Linked DNA regions of Homo sapiens: regions 1, 3, 4, 5 and 6 are each reported to be linked to region 2. Evidence: microRNA targets listed by miRTarBase, many of them from high-throughput screens and not tested one by one. Region 2 holds a microRNA gene; each other region holds the end of a gene's coding sequence. Distances are from middle to middle.
The links. Region 2 holds the annotated microRNA hsa-miR-1207-5p (UGGCAGGGAGGCUGGGAGGGG, at 2,873-2,893, shown strand). A microRNA usually pairs through its seed, bases 2 to 8, with sites in the 3' UTR of a target mRNA and lowers its output. Matches are read on the target gene's strand: a 7mer-m8 pairs with bases 2 to 8, a 7mer-A1 pairs with bases 2 to 7 and ends in A, and an 8mer does both.

Region 1 (4,080 bases), not on the chromosome of region 2:
GAGTGCGAAAACGGCGGCTTCTGCTCCGGGGTGTGCCACAACCTCCCCGGTACCTTCGAGTGCATCTGCGGGCCCGACTCGGCCCTTGCCCGCCACATTGGCACCGACTGTGACTCCGGCAAGGTGGACGGTGGCGACAGCGGCTCTGGCGAGCCCCCGCCCAGCCCGACGCCCGGCTCCACCTTGACTCCTCCGGCCGTGGGGCTCGTGCATTCGGGCTTGCTCATAGGCATCTCCATCGCGAGCCTGTGCCTGGTGGTGGCGCTTTTGGCGCTCCTCTGCCACCTGCGCAAGAAGCAGGGCGCCGCCAGGGCCAAGATGGAGTACAAGTGCGCGGCCCCTTCCAAGGAGGTAGTGCTGCAGCACGTGCGGACCGAGCGGACGCCGCAGAGACTCTGAGCGGCCTCCGTCCAGGAGCCTGGCTCCGTCCAGGAGCCTGTGCCTCCTCACCCCCAGCTTTGCTACCAAAGCACCTTAGCTGGCATTACAGCTGGAGAAGACCCTCCCCGCACCCCCCAAGCTGTTTTCTTCTATTCCATGGCTAACTGGCGAGGGGGTGATTAGAGGGAGGAGAATGAGCCTCGGCCTCTTCCGTGACGTCACTGGACCACTGGGCAATGATGGCAATTTTGTAACGAAGACACAGACTGCGATTTGTCCCAGGTCCTCACTACCGGGCGCAGGAGGGTGAGCGTTATTGGTCGGCAGCCTTCTGGGCAGACCTTGACCTCGTGGGCTAGGGATGACTAAAATATTTATTTTTTTTAAGTATTTAGGTTTTTGTTTGTTTCCTTTGTTCTTACCTGTATGTCTCCAGTATCCACTTTGCACAGCTCTCCGGTCTCTCTCTCTCTACAAACTCCCACTTGTCATGTGACAGGTAAACTATCTTGGTGAATTTTTTTTTCCTAGCCCTCTCACATTTATGAAGCAAGCCCCACTTATTCCCCATTCTTCCTAGTTTTCTCCTCCCAGGAACTGGGCCAACTCACCTGAGTCACCCTACCTGTGCCTGACCCTACTTCTTTTGCTCTTAGCTGTCTGCTCAGACAGAACCCCTACATGAAACAGAAACAAAAACACTAAAAATAAAAATGGCCATTTGCTTTTTCACCAGATTTGCTAATTTATCCTGAAATTTCAGATTCCCAGAGCAAAATAATTTTAAACAAAGGTTGAGATGTAAAAGGTATTAAATTGATGTTGCTGGACTGTCATAGAAATTACACCCAAAGAGGTATTTATCTTTACTTTTAAACAGTGAGCCTGAATTTTGTTGCTGTTTTGATTTGTACTGAAAAATGGTAATTGTTGCTAATCTTCTTATGCAATTTCCTTTTTTGTTATTATTACTTATTTTTGACAGTGTTGAAAATGTTCAGAAGGTTGCTCTAGATTGAGAGAAGAGACAAACACCTCCCAGGAGACAGTTCAAGAAAGCTTCAAACTGCATGATTCATGCCAATTAGCAATTGACTGTCACTGTTCCTTGTCACTGGTAGACCAAAATAAAACCAGCTCTACTGGTCTTGTGGAATTGGGAGCTTGGGAATGGATCCTGGAGGATGCCCAATTAGGGCCTAGCCTTAATCAGGTCCTCAGAGAATTTCTACCATTTCAGAGAGGCCTTTTGGAATGTGGCCCCTGAACAAGAATTGGAAGCTGCCCTGCCCATGGGAGCTGGTTAGAAATGCAGAATCCTAGGCTCCACCCCATCCAGTTCATGAGAATCTATATTTAACAAGATCTGCAGGGGGTGTGTCTGCTCAGTAATTTGAGGACAACCATTCCAGACTGCTTCCAATTTTCTGGAATACATGAAATATAGATCAGTTATAAGTAGCAGGCCAAGTCAGGCCCTTATTTTCAAGAAACTGAGGAATTTTCTTTGTGTAGCTTTGCTCTTTGGTAGAAAAGGCTAGGTACACAGCTCTAGACACTGCCACACAGGGTCTGCAAGGTCTTTGGTTCAGCTAAGCTAGGAATGAAATCCTGCTTCAGTGTATGGAAATAAATGTATCATAGAAATGTAACTTTTGTAAGACAAAGGTTTTCCTCTTCTATTTTGTAAACTCAAAATATTTGTACATAGTTATTTATTTATTGGAGATAATCTAGAACACAGGCAAAATCCTTGCTTATGACATCACTTGTACAAAATAAACAAATAACAATGTGCTCTCGGGTTGTGTGTCTGTTCACTTTTCCTCCCTCAGTGCCCTCATTTTATGTCATTAAATGGGGCTCACAAACCATGCAAATGCTATGAGATGCATGGAGGGCTGCCCTGTACCCCAGCACTTGTGTTGTCTGGTGGTGGCACCATCTCTGATTTTCAAAGCTTTTTCCAGAGGCTATTATTTTCACTGTAGAATGATTTCATGCTATCTCTGTGTGCACAAATATTTATTTTCTTTCTGTAACCATAACAACTTCATATATGAGGACTTGTGTCTCTGTGCTTTTAAATGCATAAATGCATTATAGGATCATTTGTTGGAATGAATTAAATAAACCCTTCCTGGGGCATCTGGCGAATCCCAGCTGTGTGTCCGGTGTATGGTTTGGCATTATCTCCTCTGCGAGATATCCAAATTCACTGTAGTCATGAAGGGTCTCAGTTTGTGGCTCTCATTCAAATATTCATTTCTAAACGTCTCATCCAGTATGAAATCATTCTCATCTCTTTTGGAGATTAACAACATCATCTTTTCAATGCACACGTTTCTTGGGCTCACTTTTCTAAGGTGGTAGGGCTGGCTGAATGCAATATGCAGGGCTCGGAAAGATTTTTTAAAGAAGAAATTAAAAGCAAGTAGAGTCCAGGCAAATATTCAGATGCTTTATATGTCTGGATAATGCTGAACTCATGAGTTTTAGTTTGACTGATTATTGTGAAGACCGGGTTGGAGATTTTGACATCCATCGCAGAAGAAGTAATGGCTTTAGTGTGTGTGTGTGTGTGCTGGGGAAGCTCCATGCACAGTGCCCTATGGAGATAACAAGCTGAGCCATGCTCCCCCTAAGTAGCAGACTAAGTCTTTGTGAAGGAAGAGCTACACAAATGGGGGCAGGACAGGTGCAGATAAATGGGGCTGGGAGACCAGAGGAGACAGTGACACCTTATAGTTCGCCCCCTGTTACCCAGCCTTCTGTTTGTCAAAAGAGTCTGCTCCCAGTCACTGTCAAACTGACTTGTAGGGCCTCATTGCGTTAGGATTTCTTCTTATTCCAGAAGAGGGGCATTTTCTTAAGGAACACTGGAAGACCAAAACACACTTTCAAAACCTAGAGGCAAAAACCCTTCATGCAGCACTTGGGCCCCAGGACATTAGTTGTGCGGGGCCCTGAGCTTCCCTGTCCTCCTCACTTCCTGCTGCCTGGGGGATCAGCAGTTCTGTTTATAGGTCTCATCTGAACTTGAGATTCTCAAAACGCTAAATAGCCATAGTGCCTCTCAGGGAAAGATACCAGGACCACATAAACAAATCAGTTAGCTTTAAAAACTATCCCTGAGAATTTAAAATCAGGATAGACCTTGTGAAACCAGAGCCATGGGTCAACCTGTGTGATCTCTGCTTTCTGTTCACATCATTGGACATCCAGGTCTGAGGGAGACTCCCAGGGACCAGTTGCTGGTGAAATTTCATAGCACAAAAGTCCGGGGCAAGAAAGCCAAGGTGGTATTTCTGGATAAGCCAGCATTCAAGTTTGTTTGTTTGTTTGTTTGTTTGTTTTTCCTAGCCTGCTGTTTTAAAGTAAACAGAATGCATTTTTTTAAGTCAAATGACTTTGTTATTTTTTTTTTCCAGTTCTCACCTATTTCTTAGATTAGTTCAGCAATTATTTACTGAGCATTTACTCTGTGCCTTTCATAGTGATAGGCACAATGACAAGTCCCTACCATATAAGTTAGACTCTGGCAGGGGAGAAAGATGCAAAACAACTGATCACCCCCAAATTGTACTTAACTTAGAAACAGTGATAAGTGCAGGGGAAGAAAAGCACAGCACACTCTGAAAAGGCGCACGAGGAAGGCAGGATTTAGAGTGGAGGACTAGAGGGAGCTTCCTGGACAAG
Region 2 (4,089 bases):
AGCTCACAACCAACAAAATGGCCCTAAGAGGCCTCTGCTGATATCCCCGTTTTCCAAATGAGAAAACTGTCCACGGGGTCGGTCAGTAACTTGTTCAACCTGGGAATGGCAGAGCTGGGATCTGAAGTCCGGGAGCCTGGCTCCGTAGGCCTCTGTTTAAGCCACTGCATCTGTTGCCTTGTGGAATGTTCTTAGAACTGTAGGATACTGGTTCCCACATGGCCGAGAGTCTTCTCTCACTAGTTCGTGCTCCATGGTGATGGAGAAGCATAGTTCTAATCTGTCATTCTGTTGCTCTGGAGCCTACACAGCCCCCCATCGCATCTGGAGGGAGAAGCCCAGCTCCTTAGCACAGCACCTGAGAAATACCCTTTACAGTCTGGCCACTGGCTGAACATTCTTTCACTCTCCATGCCACACTGCTCTGTGAGTACCATCTGAAGGTCCTCTCCCTTTTCTCTGTCTTCTAAATGTTCACTCTTCAATATCTAACTCAAATATCCTCTTCTCTAACTTGTCCAGGAAGAATGAGTAAGGCCCTTTCCTTTGTTCCCCAGGCTCTTAGTTTCTCCATCTCTAATCACGTAGATTACAGCCCTTTCTTTGGTTTTCTCCAGGGGACCAAGGAGTGGGGCTCTGCCTTTCTCATGTCTGCTCTGCCTTCACGGTCCCCCACAGTGTCTTCAGTGGATGGCCAACCTCTCATGAACAGGATGTCCTCTTGTCTGAGGTTCTACTTTGTTCCAGCCATGGAGTCATACTCTCTTTATCTTTTGACTATCCAAAGGTGTTCTGTTGGACGACTGATGCCTTCCTCCAAGGTACTTTGGGCTCCCAAGTGTGCAGTTGACATTTGCTGTGCCTTCTCCACCAGGCTTTAGTTTTTGATGTATGCTGAGCTTCAGTGGAGATTTGCTAGCCTTGGGCTTTCTGTGTTCTTGAATCTCTCAGAGTCCAGAAGAAAAGGAAAGCTGACACTTTCTAGGAATGACCTGTGAGAAGAGAGGTTGGTGTCTTGCTGCTAAGTTCCGCTTGATTCTGAACTAAGTCACCATGGGCCAGAGGAGGCAGGGATAAGAGGAGTGGTTTCTTGGCCACCAGAATGGAAACGTTTTTGTTTTCTTGTGTGCTTTTGTGGAAATGGTGGCAGTTGCTCACTAAAGAGAACTAAAACCCTTTTACTAGAGCCCCACCAGGTCTGAAGAGGATGGGCGCGTGGGAGCCATTATCTTGTAAAGGACGCTATTGAGACCTTGCTACTGCTGCAGTGAAGAGCACAGGAAAAGCCAAGCTTAAAAAACACTGGGCGAATCCTAAGAACTTTTCATGCAGAAACACATGCATGATGAGAAGAGAATCTTCATTACAACATTGTTTGACACAGAAAAACGAGACTCAGCTTAAATGCTCATTAGTTAGTGATTGGTTGATTAAGTTGTGATAAAATGGAACACTAATACAGCTGTTTAAAAAATTAGTAAAAAAAAATCAGTATGTGAGATGATGCACCTGTTAATTAACTCAACTTAGCCATTCCACAATGTATACATCATTCAAAACTTCACATCATATATTATAAATATATACAATTTTTATTTGTGAATTAAAAATTAATCTAAAAAAATTAGTGGCTATATGAAGTAATTGGGAACAATCTTGAAGCTATATTAACTACCAAAGAGCAAAGTCAACCTTAACAATGCTGACTTTTTAAAGAATAGTGCCTAGAACACTGTGTGGAGTATGCTAACAGCTACACACTAATGCACAGCCACCAACCCCAGATCAGTTACGTGAACTTCTGCATTCACAAACACACTTAACACACTCTGTGGCTATTGCCTCTTTACTGACCTGTAAGTCAGTTCTAGAAGACAGACGATCCATGAAGGCAGGTCCTAGCCTGCCCATTTGCATTGGTATCTCCAAGGCCAAGCTAGAGAAGGCACACAATAGGCTTTCCACTAATATTTGTGAATGAATGAATGAACAGAGAGAGGAGTTTTCTTTCCACAGTTTCCTTCTACCTGCTACTCCTTGAGCATATGAGGCTGGAATCTAAGCCCTGAGGTCACTCACTGCTCTCCTGGGTACTATCCCTGGCCTCCCGTCCTTTTCCTTGAGCTTCTGTGCTCTGCAAGGCTTTCTCATTATCCTTTAGGCTACAGAGAAACAAGGAGACGGGAGAGCCTTGAAATGGACCTTCAAGATTACAATGTGTAGCTGACATTGTCAGTTAAGTTGGGCAGATCTGACTTCGCTGATTAAGTGGATGTATGAGCCGATCCTCCCCAGAAGCTGGGATCAGCTTCCCCATCTGATGGTGAGTCAGACCTGCTGGGGTTTGGGTCCTCGCTCCAGCATGGCTGCCTGTGTGACCTTGGCCACTTTACTTAACCTTGCTGAATCTCAATTTCCTGATCTGTAAAGGAAGCTAAAAATGCCTCTCTTGAGGTTGTAGTGAGGATTAAATGTGATAGCATAAGTGAAAGTGCCCTTTGAAGAAAGAGGAAGGCGAAAGCGCTTATTGTGTCAGGAGAAATGTGTGGAGAGCCCCCTGTTGTTCTCAGGTGTCTCATCCTTCCCAGGGAAAAATCCCCATGCCAAGTCAGAAGAGGTTATAATTTGGCTCTTACTCTTTTATTCAGGCACTTCTTTCGGCTGCCCAGGGTTTTCAGCTTAAGCAAATAAATTACCCTTCTCCACTGGACTCTGTGTTCTGCAGCCAGCCATATGTTTAAGCTTGATAGAGATTTTTATCTGGCTTGGTAATATTACCCAGCAAGGGATGACATTTCTTATCAGAGGCCCTGAGGAATCAGAGATAGGAGCCCTTTCTTTTTCCTGGCCGCCAGGCCTCCATGTGCAGGGCTGGCAGGGAGGCTGGGAGGGGCTGGCTGGGTCTGGTAGTGGGCATCAGCTGGCCCTCATTTCTTAAGACAGCACTTCTGTTAGCTGACCTACACAGAAGCAGGTCATTTCGAGATGTTTGCGTCTTGGAGCCACTGATAGAAGCAGGGCAAGGGAGAGTGAATGAGGAAGGAAGGCGGGAGTGTGATGACGCATGCCCAGCTTTGCGCGGAGGCAGAGCACTTGCCTGTGTGGGGCCCTGCCCTTCTCTTGAGAGGCAGGCGGGCCCTAGCTGCAGCGTCAAGGTCTGGGGATTCTGTGGCTCTGTAGGGTGAAGGGCACTGGAGACCTACCAGGGGCTGGGCCATTGGAGTGGTGGGTGCTGGGGAGCTTCCGTGGGCCCCTCCAGGTCCACTCCTTGCTCTTCTCTGCCTTGTTTTGTGCCCAGAAGGCTGACCTGTGTGGATGCATTATCAGGGTGGATGCAACACAGGGCTGCCATGCTCTCTGGTATCAGTTTGGAAGGCACTGGCAGGATGGGAAGGCAGGCGGGGAGTGAGGTCAGGGGGCCTATCCTTCCACTGCCTCCCTGCTGCTCCCTGACTGATTCAGGTAAGGTTTACACCGGGGCTCTAGGTTTGAATTTTGATTCTGGCATGTACTTGCTGTGTGATATTAGGCAAGTGGTGGAACCTCTCTGTGCGTCCGACTTCTCATCTATAGTAACGCTTTTGCATTCCATTGATCTCTTTGCCTCTCATTTGCCCTGAATGCTGAAGGAAAGGACACTGCTGTATCCCCTGAGGGACTGTCTGAGCCCAAAGTACACTGGGGACAAGGGCTTCAGGGTGGGCAAGGAGATGACCGATGATCACGTGATTTGGAACTATAGCCTCCATTGGAGACACGTGCTCTGGGCTCTTTCCCTCCTGAGTTTTGGGAAGTCCTGGCCTGTGCAGCCTAATTCTCAAGTACTAATCTTGCAATCATAAGAAGAGGAAGGAGAAGTGGTTTTCCCTCTCCCTGGACCCATTCCAGCCAGCAGTTCCTGACTTTGCTTCCTTCCTGTTGGTGCCCACTCTGTTTCCTTCCATCCCTTCCCCAACCTCTCCCATCCCATGCCTCATGTTGGGCAACTTGAGTTTAACTGTCTCTTCTTCCAGTGGCCAAGTCCAAATTCTGAAAGCACAGTTCTGACCATGTCCCTGTCCAACTCAAAAACAGTAGCTCCGTGTCACC
Region 3 (4,089 bases), not on the chromosome of region 2:
CTATTCTTTGTCACAAAAGCAATATAACTCTAAAACTAAATATATTGAAAACAAAAGTTCTGATTTTTCCCATGTACTTTTTAAGCTAGATACCATTTGTCATGGAAAGCTCTGAGCTTGAGCAGCTCTTTGAGCTATACTAGCAGCAAACTGAGACTCCCCTCAATGTAATCAATCAAAAACATCAAAAGAGGACTGAGGAGGTGAATAATGTAAGACATTATCTAATGTATTTAGTGCCTTATCCCACTACCATGTAAACAATAATCTCACATTAGGTGTCCTACATTTTGGGAAAAGATGACCTTGTCTTTTTCGTATTGTAAGTGTATTTGAAACTTATTTATACAACTGTAGTGATGCCTCCCCCTTCCCAGCCTCACTTGACCCTGGCTTCTGTCTGATGCTCTACTGACTGTCTCGTTCCTGGTTCTCCTGTGTAGGTACACACTGGCAGCTCAGGACCTGGTGATGCGTGCCCGGGGTGTGCTGAAGGACAGAGGATGGCGGATATCTAATGACCGACTGGGCTCAGGAGACGACATTTCTGTATATGTCATTCCTTTAATACATGGAAACAAGCTGTCATGAAAATGGCCCAGGGGATTGGGAGGACAGAGGGGAAGAAAGCTGGGATGCCTCTTGGCAGGACGGAACTGGGAAGTGCCCCAGCTGAGTTCCAAGTGATGCAGTCTCTTCCCAGCCCAAGCGGGGAGTTCATGGCCAAAAGACTATGCTTCAAGATGACCCTTTGGTTTCCATTTCTTCTTTAGTAACAGGTCAACTCAACAAGAGCAAAACACAAAGGCTGCTACCAAGTGTTGTTGTATTTCAGTTCCTTTCATAGGCCTCCGAGGTGGCCATTGACTATTTGGGGTATATATGTCATATTTATTTTATCTAGAGTAGCTGGGGCAGCCATTTTCAGGTGTAAATGGCAGAGGACTCTTCAGCCTGTCAAGCTGCCAGCTTATCTACGGGTTAAAAAGTGCTGCATTGGAAAGTAGGGGGTCATGCCTCAAAATGTAAGTAAGTGCCCACCTTCTAGGAAGCCTGAGGTTTATTTCAGGGATTGCCGTCTGCCCCCCGCCCCCCTTCTCTTTTTTTCTTCTCTGTTTCTATTCTTTTATGGCAGTGGTGGAGTGAGGCAGGGATTTTTTTTTTTTTTTTTCGTGTTTTTGACATTCCTTGAATCTGTTTTTTATTCCCCTTCCACAGAACAGGCCTGGGACTTTCCAACACCCTGCTAAGGAAGTTCTGTGTCCAAGTCCCACCCAGGCTGGGTTGTCCCCACCTCCTCCAGCCCACACAGCCCAGGCAGCATCCGGGCCAGTGCCCTGCATGACAGAGGGTCTTTGTTGTGTAATGTTTGTTCCCAAGTTGCATTTTCTAACCGAATCAGTGTGTTTTCATGAAACTGAGTGTTTCTGTGGACCAGTAGTTCCTCTGTTGTCTTCAGTGGTCTTCCTGTGTGGCTCAAGGGTTCTCTGTGAGAGTCTGGATTTTCATTTCTGGAATGGCTGGCCCCATCCCACTTTTCTGTATCATGGGGACACATATAAAGCAGTGTTTAATAGAGCAGTTTAAGAAGTTGCTTGCATCTGTTGGTTCACCATGGCTCATCTGGGGACCATTTTGGATTCATGTTTCATGGCTTGTGACTGTCCCCAAGCCCACTCCAAACAAAGTGTAAGGATCAGAGTTCTGTCAAGGAGCAGCAGTTCTGCTCTCCCCATCATCTTTGTGCAAGGCCCCTCGGGGGGCACTTTAATAAAAGAATTTGAAATGGGTTGACTGGCCATTCTCATGCTGTGCTCCCTGTCTCTTCTCTTCTCTAAAGAATCATGTCCCAGCTCCTCAAGGTCCCTCTATGGTTCCACATCTGAGTGTTCGCCACAAGAGCAGCAGCAGCAGGCACAGTGCATGCCATATCTACCTGCTGCTTCTCTGCTGGGAGGAATGGCCAAGTAGATTATAAAACTCACTTCTGTCTCTTAGGCAGACTTGTACGGCCACAAAATTACCTAGTCTTCTTCCTGCTGAGCTACTGAGGTATTGCCACCATTTTGACAACTTTGAGTAATTAAAACACTCTTCTGACCCAAAAAGGAAAAAAGGTCACTGACGTGACCCCCCCAGCATGCTAGAGAGCTAATTCCAGTTCTCATATTTGTTTGAATTTCTTCCCAGAGGAGAGGATAGGAACCTCTCCTCCAGGGCAGTAAATCACCTGCATTTCTGGAGTTGTCGGTATTGTATTCGAAAAGGCCTGGAGCCCCTCCTGCTCAGGAAAGAACTCATTCCAGGGTGTGGAGACAGTGCCGTCTGGCAGGTGAAATACTGTGGGAATTCACGCCACCAGGTGTTTGTGCAAGTGTTGGCCTGGGAAGAATGGGACTTCGGCCTTGTCAGGAGTTGTCTTCATCTGCAGCACGTTTCTTCCTCCTGCAGTAGATCTTAGCTACCCCAGATATCTCTATGGAGAGAAGTTTGTGGAAAATGCTTTGCTTCGTGGCAGAGTCTGATGCTGTAGGAAAACCTTCGGGCATGTGACAGCAGTGTGGTCCACTCCCTGTTCTGCCCTGGCACTCAGAGTCATGTGTAAGTAGGAAACCTGAGCAAGTCTTCCGTGGAGGACCCTGAGCTGCCGTCTTTGGGATCCTTCCTGTGTCCCCACCGTCTTTCATTTATTTGCTTTCCTGGGCCTCTATCTGGGCCCTACCTTGAGCTTCTCCAGTTTTATTCAAGCCACCAGAGTAAGAATTTGGGTGTAGATGTCACAACTACCTTCTACTCAATTCACCAATTCATTTACTGCTATGGCACGTCTCAGGAATAACTCTAGAAACCTCTAAATCGAAATATTATAAAATCTTGAGCACTTAGTCCTGCTGGTTTTAGTTAGAAAGGCATCCAGGAATTGTTTTCCTACGCCCCCTTGAGTGGAAAGATCTTAGTTAGAAGATAAAGTCAAGTTTGTGTTCAGGGGATGGGAGGAAGACTATAAATAAGATGAAGAAATCAAAAGTAGGAAACATGATGTAAACGAAGCATGGCAGATCTGTCCAGCACTGATATTGCTCTATAAATTGAGCTTACTCAGTTTTGGCCTTATTTTTTTACCCAGGCCCCATGTCACCCAGTCCTAAAACAGTAACCGTGTCTACATAACGGGTTGGCCCCTGGTGCATCCCTGGAAAAGTCAAAGGACGCACACTTCGAAATTCTGCAGAACGTATTTATACATGGTTCAGAAATCTTGCGTATCTGACTTATAGCCAAATCTGCTTGCTCGAATAGCCTCAGAGGAAGTCTTGTTTAATAAAAACCTTTTGATTTCCTAGTCAAGTCTTTATGGTTGTCTCGAGGGGTGTGTGGCTACTTTAATGAAAGGCTTTCCTGCTCTAAATCTCTTTGCTGGGCTGGGCCTCTTCAGACTATCTGGTGAAACTCCTTTCCTTAGAACAAACTCAGTCCGTCCATGCTCTGTGGCATTTTGCTAGATGATAACCAAAGCCTTATTCCTGTAGCCAGTGTCAGCAGTCAGAGAGGTGGAGGGTGTGTTCTGCTGTGGTTATGCATACCTATCTGCTGTTCTTGAGGTGTAAAAGGAAAGGTGAAAATCGGGCCAGGCCAAGTACTCAGCTGTCTTAATAGGATGAAGCCTTAAGCAGTGGAAATTTCAGTTATTTTCCACAGTATTCCATTTTGGAGGATTTGGGGTGTTTACTTTTTAAATTCTTGAACAACTTAACCTCCATGAGGCTTTGTGAAGTCAGCTGTGACCACCCTCCTCTTACTGTGTTCTCAGTATTCATTCACTTCCAGGGAAGAATGACAGCCACAGGGAGATGGTGGTGGGCAAGAATGAGAGTCCCAGGATCCAGATTTAGCCTCAGATCTTCCCCATTCAGGAAGGGTTTTCCATTTAACAAGAGCACTAGTATGAAAACATTAGGGACAAATCTCCCATGTCTTTGAAATTCGGATTCTCCTCTTGAGATCCCCTTCCTCACCTGCCAATCAACTTTATAAGGCCACAAGTGGTCACTGGTTTTCCTTCCACAGGTTTGAGGTTCTCAGCTTTCC
Region 4 (4,089 bases), not on the chromosome of region 2:
TCTTATATGTAGGATTAGGAGGTTTAAGTATGTGATAAAATGTAAGGCCTCTTCTGGTGTTAAAATGCTGAAGTATTTTATATGTAGGTATGTACATATATCCTTATATATGTGTGTGTATATTATATGTATGCACACACACACACACACATATATACACTTTTTGTTGCAACATCTATTAAGCTTTTGGTTTTGTTTGCTTTATAAAATTAGAATCATATCATATATGCTATTCTTTTTTAACCTGCTCTTTTTCACCTAAAAGATTGTAAGCATTCTCTAGATTATTGAATCTTTTTCTGTCCCTTGATTTTTAATAATCACAGGGTATTCCATCATCTTGGTGTACTAAATCAATTAACTATTACTCCATTGTTGAACCTGTAGGTTGTATCTCTCCACTGTATTCCTCTTCTTTCTTCAACTAGGATTCTAAATTGACTGATAGGTTAGGCCTGGGCATCTGAGATATTAAGAATAATATGGCTCAATATATAGATCAGATTGCCATATTATGTAAACAACTAAAAAACAAATTGTACTAAGTATGGTTTCTGTGCTCCTAACAGAGTCTCTCTGAATTACAGGCTTTAATTTTCCTTGTGGTTGGAATATTCTTCATGATTGGAAGCATGGCACTCATTATAATTGACTGGATTTATGATCCTCCAAATTCCAAGCATCACTAACACAAGGAAAAATACTTTCTTTTTCTATTGGAAATGGTTACAAGTTATACTCCAAAAGATATTTGAATTATCTTGATTGGAATGTTATTCATAGGAAATAACAGGAAGATTCCAAAGACGTTTACCAGTAATATCACCAGGCACCTGCAGAAGAGGAAAATCACTGTTTTTGTCAAGGATGGTTGTGTATGTGTTTAAAATAAAACCTGTGGTGCACATTTCTACCCAGGTTTTGCTAGAGCAGTGTGAGATGATGAAGGTGTATTTTTGCTGCTTTACGAGCAGAATAAGGGTAACTGCATGTAACAATCATCAGATAGTACTCTTTCCCCTGCCGTCTCCTCATCCTGCACCCCCTAAAAAAGTACCAAACATTTGCATTCTCAGAACATCAAACAAAAATGCCCTGGTGGCAAAGCTATCACCATTTAATGTCTTCTCTCAGTCTTGCACCAAAGTCTCTGGTCTGTTTACTAACAGAGGCAAAAGGCATGTCTTAGGAACTGTTTCTGTTTCTGTAAGGTACATGAATGGTCAAACACCAGTCTAGAGCATCTTATTGTCAACAGCAAAATAATATTTTGCCCACCCTGTTTGTGACATTGAGTTGTGACTTCTATATTCAATAGATTTTTGTAAATGTTAAAACATCTATATTTAAATGTTAAAACACTAAATATAGAGAGGGGCTTTATTTCAATCATAGAGCAACAACAAAAATAATGCTTATAGCTAAACTGCCTGTTCTAGAAAGCATCTGCTTTTTCATGTTATTCCTAAATCCTCTTGTCATACTTTTGTCATTGAACAATGCTCTCCCTCTCGTCTTCCATCCTCATTCAGAATTTTTAGAAGACCACAATCGTGGAGATACACTACCCAGTATTGTTTGATACATTTTTATTTGATAAACATTCAGTGCAGGAAACTGTGATTTGCTATATGTTTATGTATATAATCTTATTCTGTAGTCATCAGAATGTTAATGTAAGGTACATTTGATTTTTATTTTTTACATGTGTAGTTTTCTTTCTTCACAGTCAAAGCATTTATATTATTGGGGGTGGGGGCAGGGAATTAAGTTGGTGGGCTCGAAAATCCATTCATATGTATCTGTCTACAAATGTCTGGGGATAATTTAAATTTGAAACCTAAGTTATATATAGTTTGGCAATGCTCTTCTTCAATATTTACAATAATAGGATGATCTACAAGAAAATAAGTTTCTTTTTGCAAATTTTTATCATACTAAAGTTGTTCTTTTAATTTAGCATATCTAAAATAGGATTTAGTTCAGTTTAGCTCACACAGGTGTTTGCTGACATTCATTGGCCATTTAATACAGTGTTGAGTGGTTCTCTGTAAAAGTATAAGTGCTAACACTACGAAGAAATGCACACGATCATTCTTGCTCACTTCTATAACAAACTTACATAAAATGGATTTAAAAATTCCTACTCACAGCCTAAAACTTCTGGAGTTCACTACCTTTTTTTCAAATCATAGTAAGATCACTTGTGTATTTTATATTTTAGTAAAGCCAATTATGAAGTACAAGTATCATACACGTACTTTTGAGCTACTATTATTTGAAAAAAATCTGCCAAATAGCATCTTTAGGATATATTTACATTTTCACTCATCTAAAAAGTATACAAAAATAAAAAGTGGAAAAAGGTATCTTCTGAATGTTCAAGAGCATCCTATAGTGCCAAATAATAAAGCACCATTTTTTTCTTCATAACCAGGATTAAAATTCATATATACTGCAGGGCAGACATACATATGATAGCTTGTGCTGATTAATTTAACCCCATTTGTAAACAGATGAAAATTTTATTTTCTTATTTCATTTATAAGATGGCTCAATGTATTGGGAGGCTTCTTTTTTATTACAGAAAGTGTATATTGGTATATAATAAATGAACTTTTCAAATGACTATGATGTGATTTTTGATCTATTGTTAAAGAATGTTGTGTTATTTGTCCATGAAACAAAATTTAAAATCCAAATACTGTCTTTCTTATATTGGTTTATGTTCCATTTTCATTGTTACCTTTGACACATAACTAACATCTATAGCCATCATCCTGAAAATAATTGCCATCTTATTTTGGCAAAATAGATATTTAATCCTAAATTATTATGATGATTATAATTTTGGCATCACATATATACCACCTAGAATGAATGTGGAAGAAATGAGTCTTTTATGGTTAGTTTGAAAGAATCCATTGAAGATAGAAAATGAGAGAATAGAAGAAACCTGAGAATAGTAAAATAAAGAGCAGAGAAAATATGGGGGCAGGGAAAACATGTGAGTGCTAAGGATTGATTATGAATGAACGATTAGGGGGATTGACGGATCACAGGGTAAGTATATGCTTAACTTTATAAGAAACTTCCACATAGTTTTCCACAGTGTTTCTACCATTTTCATTTCCACCCGTACTACCTACAACTTCCACTGACTCCACAGCCCTGCCAACATTTGGTGTTGTCTTTTGCATTTTAGCCTTTCTAGTGGGTCTGAAATGGTAACTCATTGTGATTTTCATTTCTGCTTCTGTGACAACTAATGTTGAAAACTTTTCAAGTGTTTAATGGTCACTCATATATCTTCTTTTGTGAAGTGTGTATTCAAATCTTTTGCCCATTTTTAAAATTTAGGTTATGTGTTTTTATTGGGTATTTGTAGAAGCTCTTTAAATATGGATCCATGTCCAGATTGCCAATATATTTTCCCAGTCTATGGTATGGTTGCTTATTTTCCTAAAGGTGTCTTAATTACATCTTTCTGGGGCCAGGTCACCATAGCTCAAAGTTTTGCAATTTATGTCTTAATGAGATAAAATTAATCAGAGTGGTATAGTCAAAATTAAATGTTTTGATGTCCTGGGCCCATATAGGTAGGACTGGATCATCTAACCAAGATGCAAAAAAAAAAAACAAAAAAACAAAAATAGTACTTGGAAAAACTTATTTTAAATTAAACATCTTTATAAAGGCAAACTAGATCAGCATACATTAAAACTAGCCACAAGGCAAAAACTATACCAAGAAAAAAATGACAGAAATTTTAAAAAGAAGCCTCAGAAGCCTCTTGACATGGTATGGATCTGTGTCCCCACCAAATCTCATGTAGAATTGTAATCTCTAATGTTGGAAGTGGGGCCTGGTGGGAGGTGATTGGATCATGGGGGTGGTTTTGGTTTAACACCATCCCTTTTGGTACTGTCATAGTGAAAGTGAATGAGTGATCTCAAAATCTAGTTGTTTAAAAGTGTGTGGCATTTCCCACTTCTCTTTTCCTTCTGCTCTGGCCTTGTGAAGTGCCAGCTCCCTCTTCACCTTCCACTATGATTGTGAGTTTCCTGAGGCCTCCCCAGAAGCCAAGCA
Region 5 (4,089 bases), not on the chromosome of region 2:
AACCTATGCCTCCTGGGTTCAAGCGATCCTCCTGCCTCAGCCTCCTGAGTAGCTGGGATTACAGGTGCGCACCACCATGCTCGCCTAATTTTTGGTATTTTTAGTAGAATCAGAGTTTCACCATGTTAACCAGGCTGGTCTCGAACTCCTGACCTCAGGCGATCCGCCCTCCTAGGCCTCCCAAAGCGCTGGGATTACAGGTTGGCCCCGCCGGAGAGGGCTCTTAAAAGGGCAATGTCAGAGGCCGAGGCATCAGCCCCACCAGGACCTGGCCAAGTCCAGGCTGCAAGGAAGCACTCCCCTTTTGTACCTGGGAAGAGCTGCTGGGGAACCCCATGTTGGGAGGTAACTGGGAGAGCGGGGCAGGCCCCTCATCCCGGCACAGGCTCCGACACGCAGTACATTTGTCTGGCGCCCATCCCAGCTCTGCCTGTCAGACTCATCCTGGGAGTGCAGCCAGGGCCGCCCCCGCCGCGTACCCCCTGGGGAAGGATGGGGACTCGGGGAGAGGAGGCATTCTCAGGACCTGGGGTAAACCGGAAAAGCTTCAGGGGAGGAAAAGCAGGACAGACGGCTAGGAGAATGTTGGTTCCCAGGAGTGAGGTTTCAGTGTTTGGCTAATGAGCTGCCCTGCCCAGCCTGGACTGTGAGCGCAGGCAGGTCCCTCGGCCTTACGTTGGGTCCCCAGTTACCAGCCTCTTTAGAGTTTCTAGAAGTCTGGCTTATGGTTGTCTCTCTTGGTGGAGAGGCCAGACTGTTGGTCCCAGTGTTTCCTCACTCCCTGCCTAAAGCACCCAGACCTGCATCTTGGGCCCTGAATACCTGGGTGTGGGAACCCAGGGTTGGTGAGGGACCCAGGGCTCTGACTCACTCCACTAGGCCTCTGGAGGGTGTTTGCTAACTGAGGTAACCTGGGTAGCTGAGGTTGGAGATGGGGCAGGTCAAGGTGCCAGAGATGAGGGCATCAGGCGTGGGATGCGGAGGCAACTACCAGGGTGGAGTCAAGGCTATTGGGCCTGTTCCCAACTGCTCGGCTTCCAGGTGGGTCGGCCCCTCCTAAATGAAGCTTGCATCAGCCCCATCCCACTGCCTCAGGGAGGGAGAGTGTCTGGTTTTCCCTCTCTGAAGGAAGGCGAACCACACCTTTCCCAACAGTTATTTGTGAGCAGGAACTGTGTTACCTTCTTTCTGTAAACCCTGCTCCTAATGGTGCCTGGCACAAGGTAAGCACTCGGTGACCGTGTGTGCCCTCCTGCTGTTGTGCTCTTGGGTATGACCTGTGGGGAGGGACCTCAGCCACAGTCATCCTTGCCTTCACTACCATTGACTTCCTCTCCTCTGGCTTCTGGAAGCATGGGGTCCCTTATAGTTACTTTCTGCTAACAAGCCAGTTTGTCCATACAGCCATCTTCCTAGCCAGGCTCCTACACCAGTCCCTACACGGGCAGGAGGAAGGCTGGCAGGGAAAGCTGGGCTGCCCAAGGCAGGAGGGTCTCTCTGCACAAAGCAGCTGAGAGTCCAGGCAGCCAGCTCCAGCAGGTAAGTCAGCTGGGTCCTCAGGGACTCAAAGCCCCAGCTTCTGCCCTCCCACAGAGCTCTCAGGGCCATGGCAAAAAGCAGAGCCTCCTACTGGTAGGAAGGTGACAGGCACCAGGAGCCTAAGCAGGTAGGCGTGGGGAGTGGTGCAGGCAGCTGTAGGGACTTCTAAGACAGAGCTAAGGCAGAGCAGGGGCGTTCAGGGCCCTGTGAGAGTTCCCAGTGGGCTTCTGGAATGGTATAGGGGGTGGGGCAAAACTAGCCTCCTGCACACTGTGTACGCTGCCTTTCTTCAAACCAAATAGTTGAGGCCACAGGAAATGTGAGTTTCTGGTCCTTCTGAATTACAAATGGGAGCAGCTTGCTCTTTGTCCCCTTGTCCCGGCTTTGTTATCCCAGAGCTGGGGCAATGGGCTACGGCCCAGGCGGGTCTGCCTGTGGGCCCCCAGCTGGCATAGCCAGGCAAGACAAGAGAGCCACTGTCACCCCTTCACGCACCTACCTCAGTTTTGACAGGGTTTCCAGCAGCAAGATTAATAGGATCAATCTCAAGCCCCCAGTGGAAAATGGAGCACATGGCCCCTTTCCTTGGTACTATGCTCCAGCAGGCCCAAGTCGCTGCTCAGGGACTAAGGAAGCTGAGGTGAGATAAAGGCTCCTAAGTGACAGCCCAGTTCACATTCCAGCTCTCAACCTCCCAAAGAAACATAAAGCACTGCCGAGGAGTCAGGACTTCCGACCTCCATCAGGCCACGTTGTCTCATCTCCCTTACCGTCCTTGTATTTCTGTCTTCCAAAGGATGGAATAAGCATAATCATATAATCATGTCCCCACCCTACCTTCTGGGACCATCACAAAGATAAAAGAGATCATCTATAGGGAGTATTTTAACCTCCTAGGAGAGAGGCACTAAACTAACAGAAGCTGTTATTAAAGTAAAGGGTTTGTAGATTGCAGATGAAAGGCAGCAGGTAAATAAACAGCCTGAACATCAGCCTCCCCTGAGAAAGGAACTGGCTATTAGGGCAACAGTGGGAGCTCCACAAAGGGGCTACAACATTTTCTCCTCTCCTCTGCCCTGCTGGCTATCCCAATCCTTTGGAGGTGCAGCAGCAAGTTGGTATGCAGTTGGTCTCCCCATGTGGGGATGGCTGTAACGAGAGAAACTGCTGTTAATAAGTCCCCAACCCATGCTAGGCATAGAAGCTAGGGGCTCTTCTGGATTAAATACAGCCTCTCGCTTTCCACAGAGTCCTTTGTAGGGAACAGAAGTGCTAAGAGGCTTTTAAAACAGTTCTGGTCTCTAAGCTAGTCCTACCTCAATGATTTCAAGCAGGAATATATTTGTAAAGGAGGATCCTGGCCCTTGCCCTGCAAGCTTTTGTGATTCAGACTCCATCTTCCACCTTCCCCTTGAGCTTTTTCTAAGTGTACCCCTCCCTTCGCTTACCTGTTCAAAGGCTCTGTGACTTGCTAACTGGAGGGAGCAGCCTAATTTGGAAGGAAAAGCAGAAGTGTATATCAGGGAGAACCTCAGAGGCGGGGTTCAAGCCCGGGGAAGAAGACTGAGGAAGAGTCCTAAGCCCTCCCCAGAGATGCTTTATTACATGGTTTCATCAGTCATCAATGATGGGTCCCTATGCCCATGCGAGGAGACAGGAACATCTGTGTGGTACATGGCACTGTTCCCCTCTCAGCTACGCAGTCAGATGGGGGCAGGGGGATGAATGGGTGCTTGGCTTCCCTGCTGTTGGGCAGGCTCTGAGATCTCAGCAGACAGAAATGAAAGCCTGGCAAATAGGGAGGCAGGAATGTTCAAGCATCGGTGACCTCCATGTTCTGCAGCCTGTTTTCTAGGGTGACGTCTCTTGCTGCTGCTTTCTTTTTGCTGCCCTCATGTTGCTTCTTCTGCTTCTTTGATGGCTCCTGCTCAATGGGCGCAGGCTTCACAAAGGGGATCAGTTCTTGCAGTCCTGGGAGGGAAGAGCCAACCAAATGACCTGTTGTTTCTCAGTGAGTCAAAGCCCTAAGACCTCTGGGGAGAATTCAACAAGACAATGATCCCTTTGAACAGAGGGGTCCCTTTGATAGGCACTGGTTTCCTTTATTCTTTTCTTCCCTAGTCTGAATTTTAGCAGCATTTCAACATCATACCTGCACTGGCTACTTTCTCAACCAGGCCCCCTGCCCTGCCCAGCCCGAGAGGGCAGACAGAGTTTCAGGGGCTGTGTCTGAACAAAAAAACCTGGTATATCCTGAAAGGGGACTGCTATTTAGAAGAGTGTGAAGACAGAAAAGAGGAGAACGATGAGATGAGCTGGGAGTTTTACCTGGCGGCATGAACTCCTTCAATTTCTCAGGCACAGTGATGCCCTTCTCTGTCTGGTAGTTCTCCAGGATGGCGCAGATGGTACGGGTAGTGGCGCACATGGTAGCATTGAGCATATGGACAAACTCCACCTGGGAAGACAGGGTCCCAGAGGGGAAGTCGGGCTCAACTCTCATCGGGTCTTACTGACGGCCAGGAACCATCCATTCAACCAGACTTCCCC
Region 6 (4,089 bases), 5.2 Mb from region 2:
TCCCGCATCTGGGCCTTGCCATCTCTCTCTCCGAGTGGACATGGAGAGGACGGGGGCCCAGCAGCTGGATGGCTGCAGGGATCAAGTCTTCTCTGGGGCTGGCACGTAGAAGAGCATGTGGCTGGTGGACGGGCATGCCTGGCTCCTCACCTGGCAGTCTCCTGCCCTCTAACCGGCTGTCTCTTGTTCCCCTAGTGCCCTCGGCTAGCATGACCCGCCTGATGCGGTCCCGCACAGCCTCTGGTTCCAGCGTCACTTCTCTGGATGGCACCCGCAGCCGCTCCCACACCAGCGAGGGCACCCGAAGCCGCTCCCACACCAGCGAGGGCACCCGCAGCCGCTCGCACACCAGCGAGGGGGCCCACCTGGACATCACCCCCAACTCGGGTGCTGCTGGGAACAGCGCCGGGCCCAAGTCCATGGAGGTCTCCTGCTAGGCGGCCTGCCCAGCTGCCGCCCCCGGACTCTGATCTCTGTAGTGGCCCCCTCCTCCCCGGCCCCTTTTCGCCCCCTGCCTGCCATACTGCGCCTAACTCGGTATTAATCCAAAGCTTATTTTGTAAGAGTGAGCTCTGGTGGAGACAAATGAGGTCTATTACGTGGGTGCCCTCTCCAAAGGCGGGGTGGCGGTGGACCAAAGGAAGGAAGCAAGCATCTCCGCATCGCATCCTCTTCCATTAACCAGTGGCCGGTTGCCACTCTCCTCCCCTCCCTCAGAGACACCAAACTGCCAAAAACAAGACGCGTAGCAGCACACACTTCACAAAGCCAAGCCTAGGCCGCCCTGAGCATCCTGGTTCAAACGGGTGCCTGGTCAGAAGGCCAGCCGCCCACTTCCCGTTTCCTCTTTAACTGAGGAGAAGCTGATCCAGTTTCCGGAAACAAAATCCTTTTCTCATTTGGGGAGGGGGGTAATAGTGACATGCAGGCACCTCTTTTAAACAGGCAAAACAGGAAGGGGGAAAAGGTGGGATTCATGTCGAGGCTAGAGGCATTTGGAACAACAAATCTACGTAGTTAACTTGAAGAAACCGATTTTTAAAGTTGGTGCATCTAGAAAGCTTTGAATGCAGAAGCAAACAAGCTTGATTTTTCTAGCATCCTCTTAATGTGCAGCAAAAGCAGGCGACAAAATCTCCTGGCTTTACAGACAAAAATATTTCAGCAAACGTTGGGCATCATGGTTTTTGAAGGCTTTAGTTCTGCTTTCTGCCTCTCCTCCACAGCCCCAACCTCCCACCCCTGATACATGAGCCAGTGATTATTCTTGTTCAGGGAGAAGATCATTTAGATTTGTTTTGCATTCCTTAGAATGGAGGGCAACATTCCACAGCTGCCCTGGCTGTGATGAGTGTCCTTGCAGGGGCCGGAGTAGGAGCACTGGGGTGGGGGTGGAATTGGGGTTACTCGATGTAAGGGATTCCTTGTTGTTGTGTTGAGATCCAGTGCAGTTGTGATTTCTGTGGATCCCAGCTTGGTTCCAGGAATTTTGTGTGATTGGCTTAAATCCAGTTTTCAATCTTCGACAGCTGGGCTGGAACGTGAACTCAGTAGCTGAACCTGTCTGACCCGGTCACGTTCTTGGATCCTCAGAACTCTTTGCTCTTGTCGGGGTGGGGGTGGGAACTCACGTGGGGAGCGGTGGCTGAGAAAATGTAAGGATTCTGGAATACATATTCCATGGGACTTTCCTTCCCTCTCCTGCTTCCTCTTTTCCTGCTCCCTAACCTTTCGCCGAATGGGGCAGCACCACTGACGTTTCTGGGCGGCCAGTGCGGCTGCCAGGTTCCTGTACTACTGCCTTGTACTTTTCATTTTGGCTCACCGTGGATTTTCTCATAGGAAGTTTGGTCAGAGTGAATTGAATATTGTAAGTCAGCCACTGGGACCCGAGGATTTCTGGGACCCCGCAGTTGGGAGGAGGAAGTAGTCCAGCCTTCCAGGTGGCGTGAGAGGCAATGACTCGTTACCTGCCGCCCATCACCTTGGAGGCCTTCCCTGGCCTTGAGTAGAAAAGTCGGGGATCGGGGCAAGAGAGGCTGAGTACGGATGGGAAACTATTGTGCACAAGTCTTTCCAGAGGAGTTTCTTAATGAGATATTTGTATTTATTTCCAGACCAATAAATTTGTAACTTTGCAGCGGCTTGTGTCTTTTTTCTGTCCCTGAGAGATTGTGTGTGTGAAACATTGCAGTGCAGGGATGGCTGTTTCACTGGGGGGTTGCCCGTCCTTGACACCTAGGGGACCCCAGCCCCTCATCTCTGGAATTCTTTCCTCGGAGCATCACGTCCAGCAGAAATTTAAGTCAGCTCATATGTTAATTCTAATTTCCCAGTGGCCACATTTTCAAAAGTGGAAAGAAACAGATGAAATTAATTTTAATAATACATTTCATTTATCTCAAGACGTCTAAAATATTACCACTTCTATAAAAACTATTGACCAGGTATTTTGCATTCTTTTTTCATTCTAGGAACTCTAGTGTGTTTCACACTCGCAATGCATTCAGACCAGCTGCATTTCAATTGCCCAGTAGCTTGGGCAGCACAATGATGAGGATAAAAAACTTTCCAACCTATAATTCGAGGAAAACAGCTTTTTTATTTTTAATATTTATTTTTATTTTTTGAAACGTAGTCTCACTTTGTCACCCAGGCTCAAGTGCAGTGGCACAATCTTCGCTAATTGCAACCTCCGCCTCCCAGGTTCAAGCAGTTCTCGTGCCTTAGCCTGCTGAGTAGCTGGGATTACAGGCATGCGCCACCATGCCCAGATAATTTATTTTTATTTTTATTTTTAGTAGAGATGGGGTTTTTGCCATGGCCAGGCTGGTCTCGAACTCCTGACCTCAAGTGATCCGTCCACCTAGGCCTCCCAGAGTGCTGGGATTACAGGCATGAGTCACCGTACCCAGGCTACATTTTGTTTGGATTACAAACAAATGTATGTGGAAAGATCATTCCTTTTCTCATGCCCAGTGACAACCATTGTAATGCTTGTTTTCTACTCTACATTAAAAAAAAGAGATTTTAGTGTAACCTCTTATTTAAACTAAGATTAGTTTAAAATATACAGACAGTTGCAAACAATACAGAGAGTTGCCATATAGCCTGTACTTAGTGACCCCTGTCACTAATATCTGACGTTACTGCATACTTGTCACAACCGGGAGATCAGTTGGACGTTGCTGTTAACTAAGCCCTGGACCATATTGAGAATTCACTGGGGTTCCCCTAATGTCCTCTCTCTGTCCAGGATCCCATCTGGGACACCCCATTACATTTTGTCATCATGTCTCAGCTTCCTCTGGTTTGTAACAGTTTCTCAGATTTTATTTTATTTATTTATTTATTTATTTATTTTTACTTGAGATGGAGTCTTGCTCTGTCGCCCAGGCCGGAGTGCAGTGGTGTGATCTCGGCTCACTGCAACCTCTGCCTCCCAGGTTCAAGCAATTCTCCTACCTCACCCTCCCAAGTAACTGGGATTACAGGCGCAGGCTGCCACGCCCAGCTAATTTTTTTGTATTTTAGTAGAGACGGGTTTTCACTGTGTTGTCCAGGCTGGTCTCCAACTTCTGAGCTCAGGTAATCCACCCGCCTTGGCCTCCCAAAGTGCTTGGATTACAGGTGTGAGCCACCGCGACCGGCCAGATTTTCCCTTTTCTTCAACAGCGTTGAGAAGCACTAGTCAGACATTCTGTCACAAGTCTCCCCACTGAGGTTTGTAAGTAGTTTTTCTCACAGTACAACTTGGGGCTGTGGGTTTTTCGGGGAAACCCACAGAGGTGATTTGTCCTGCTTCTCACATCATATCCAGGCCACACGCTATCACTGTGGTTTATCACTGATGGGATTAATGGTGATGGCGTGGCTGGGGTAGTGTTTGCCAGATTTCTCTATCGTCAGGTTACCCTTTCCACTTTTCCATATTCATTCTTTGGAAGTGTGAACCCCCAAAATTTGAGACAGGTCTCTGTTAATTTAGAAAGTTTATTTTGCCAAGGCTGAGGACAGGCGCCTGTGACAGCCTCAGGAGGTCCTGACGACCTGTGCCCAAGGTGATCGGGGCACAGTTTGGTTGTATAC

Region 1: the mRNA of THBD is a reported target of hsa-miR-1207-5p. Seed matches in the 3' UTR shown: 7mer-m8 at 1,666-1,672.
Region 3: the mRNA of PPM1H is a reported target of hsa-miR-1207-5p. Seed matches in the 3' UTR shown: 7mer-A1 at 4,016-4,022.
Region 4: miRTarBase lists SLC38A4 as a target of hsa-miR-1207-5p. Seed matches in the 3' UTR shown: 7mer-m8 at 1,019-1,025.
Region 5: miRTarBase lists SARS1 as a target of hsa-miR-1207-5p. Seed matches in the 3' UTR shown: 7mer-m8 at 3,252-3,258.
Region 6: miRTarBase lists NDRG1 as a target of hsa-miR-1207-5p. Seed matches in the 3' UTR shown: 7mer-m8 at 510-516 and 7mer-A1 at 515-521.

Annotation. Positions count from the first base shown.
Region 1 is chr20:23,044,096-23,048,175 of GRCh38, reverse strand. THBD (thrombomodulin) reads left to right here. Exons shown (of 1, transcript NM_000361.3): 1 at 1-2,543. The coding sequence ends at 399. Among named protein-coding and RNA genes, the nearest start is that of THBD, 3.5 kb to the left of the region's middle.
Region 2 is chr8:128,046,287-128,050,375 of GRCh38, forward strand. MIR1207 (microRNA 1207) reads left to right here and starts at 2,866; the gene lies at 2,866-2,952. The region is part of intron 6 of PVT1 (Pvt1 oncogene); the gene reads left to right. RefSeq lists enhancers at 1,945-4,061, 2,581-3,126, a silencer at 2,209-2,392 and a cis regulatory region at 3,005-3,257.
Region 3 is chr12:62,644,991-62,649,079 of GRCh38, reverse strand. PPM1H (protein phosphatase, Mg2+/Mn2+ dependent 1H) reads left to right here. Exons shown (of 10, transcript NM_020700.2): 10 at 444-4,089. The coding sequence ends at 591. Among named protein-coding and RNA genes, the nearest start is that of MIRLET7I, 43 kb to the right of the region's middle.
Region 4 is chr12:46,763,301-46,767,389 of GRCh38, reverse strand. SLC38A4 (solute carrier family 38 member 4) reads left to right here. Exons shown (of 17, transcript NM_018018.5): 17 at 588-2,629. The coding sequence ends at 689. Among named protein-coding and RNA genes, the nearest start is that of SLC38A4, 61 kb to the left of the region's middle.
Region 5 is chr1:109,237,152-109,241,240 of GRCh38, reverse strand. It overlaps SARS1 (seryl-tRNA synthetase 1), which reads right to left. Exons shown (of 11, transcript NM_006513.4): 10 at 3,868-3,997; 11 at 3,059-3,510. The coding sequence ends at 3,353. Among named protein-coding and RNA genes, the nearest start is that of CELSR2, 10 kb to the left of the region's middle. RefSeq lists silencers at 100-394, 1,502-1,916 and enhancers at 405-1,100, 3,041-4,089.
Region 6 is chr8:133,235,226-133,239,314 of GRCh38, reverse strand. It overlaps NDRG1 (N-myc downstream regulated 1), which reads left to right. Exons shown (of 16, transcript NM_006096.4): 16 at 196-2,140. The coding sequence ends at 437. Among named protein-coding and RNA genes, the nearest start is that of CCN4, 46 kb to the right of the region's middle.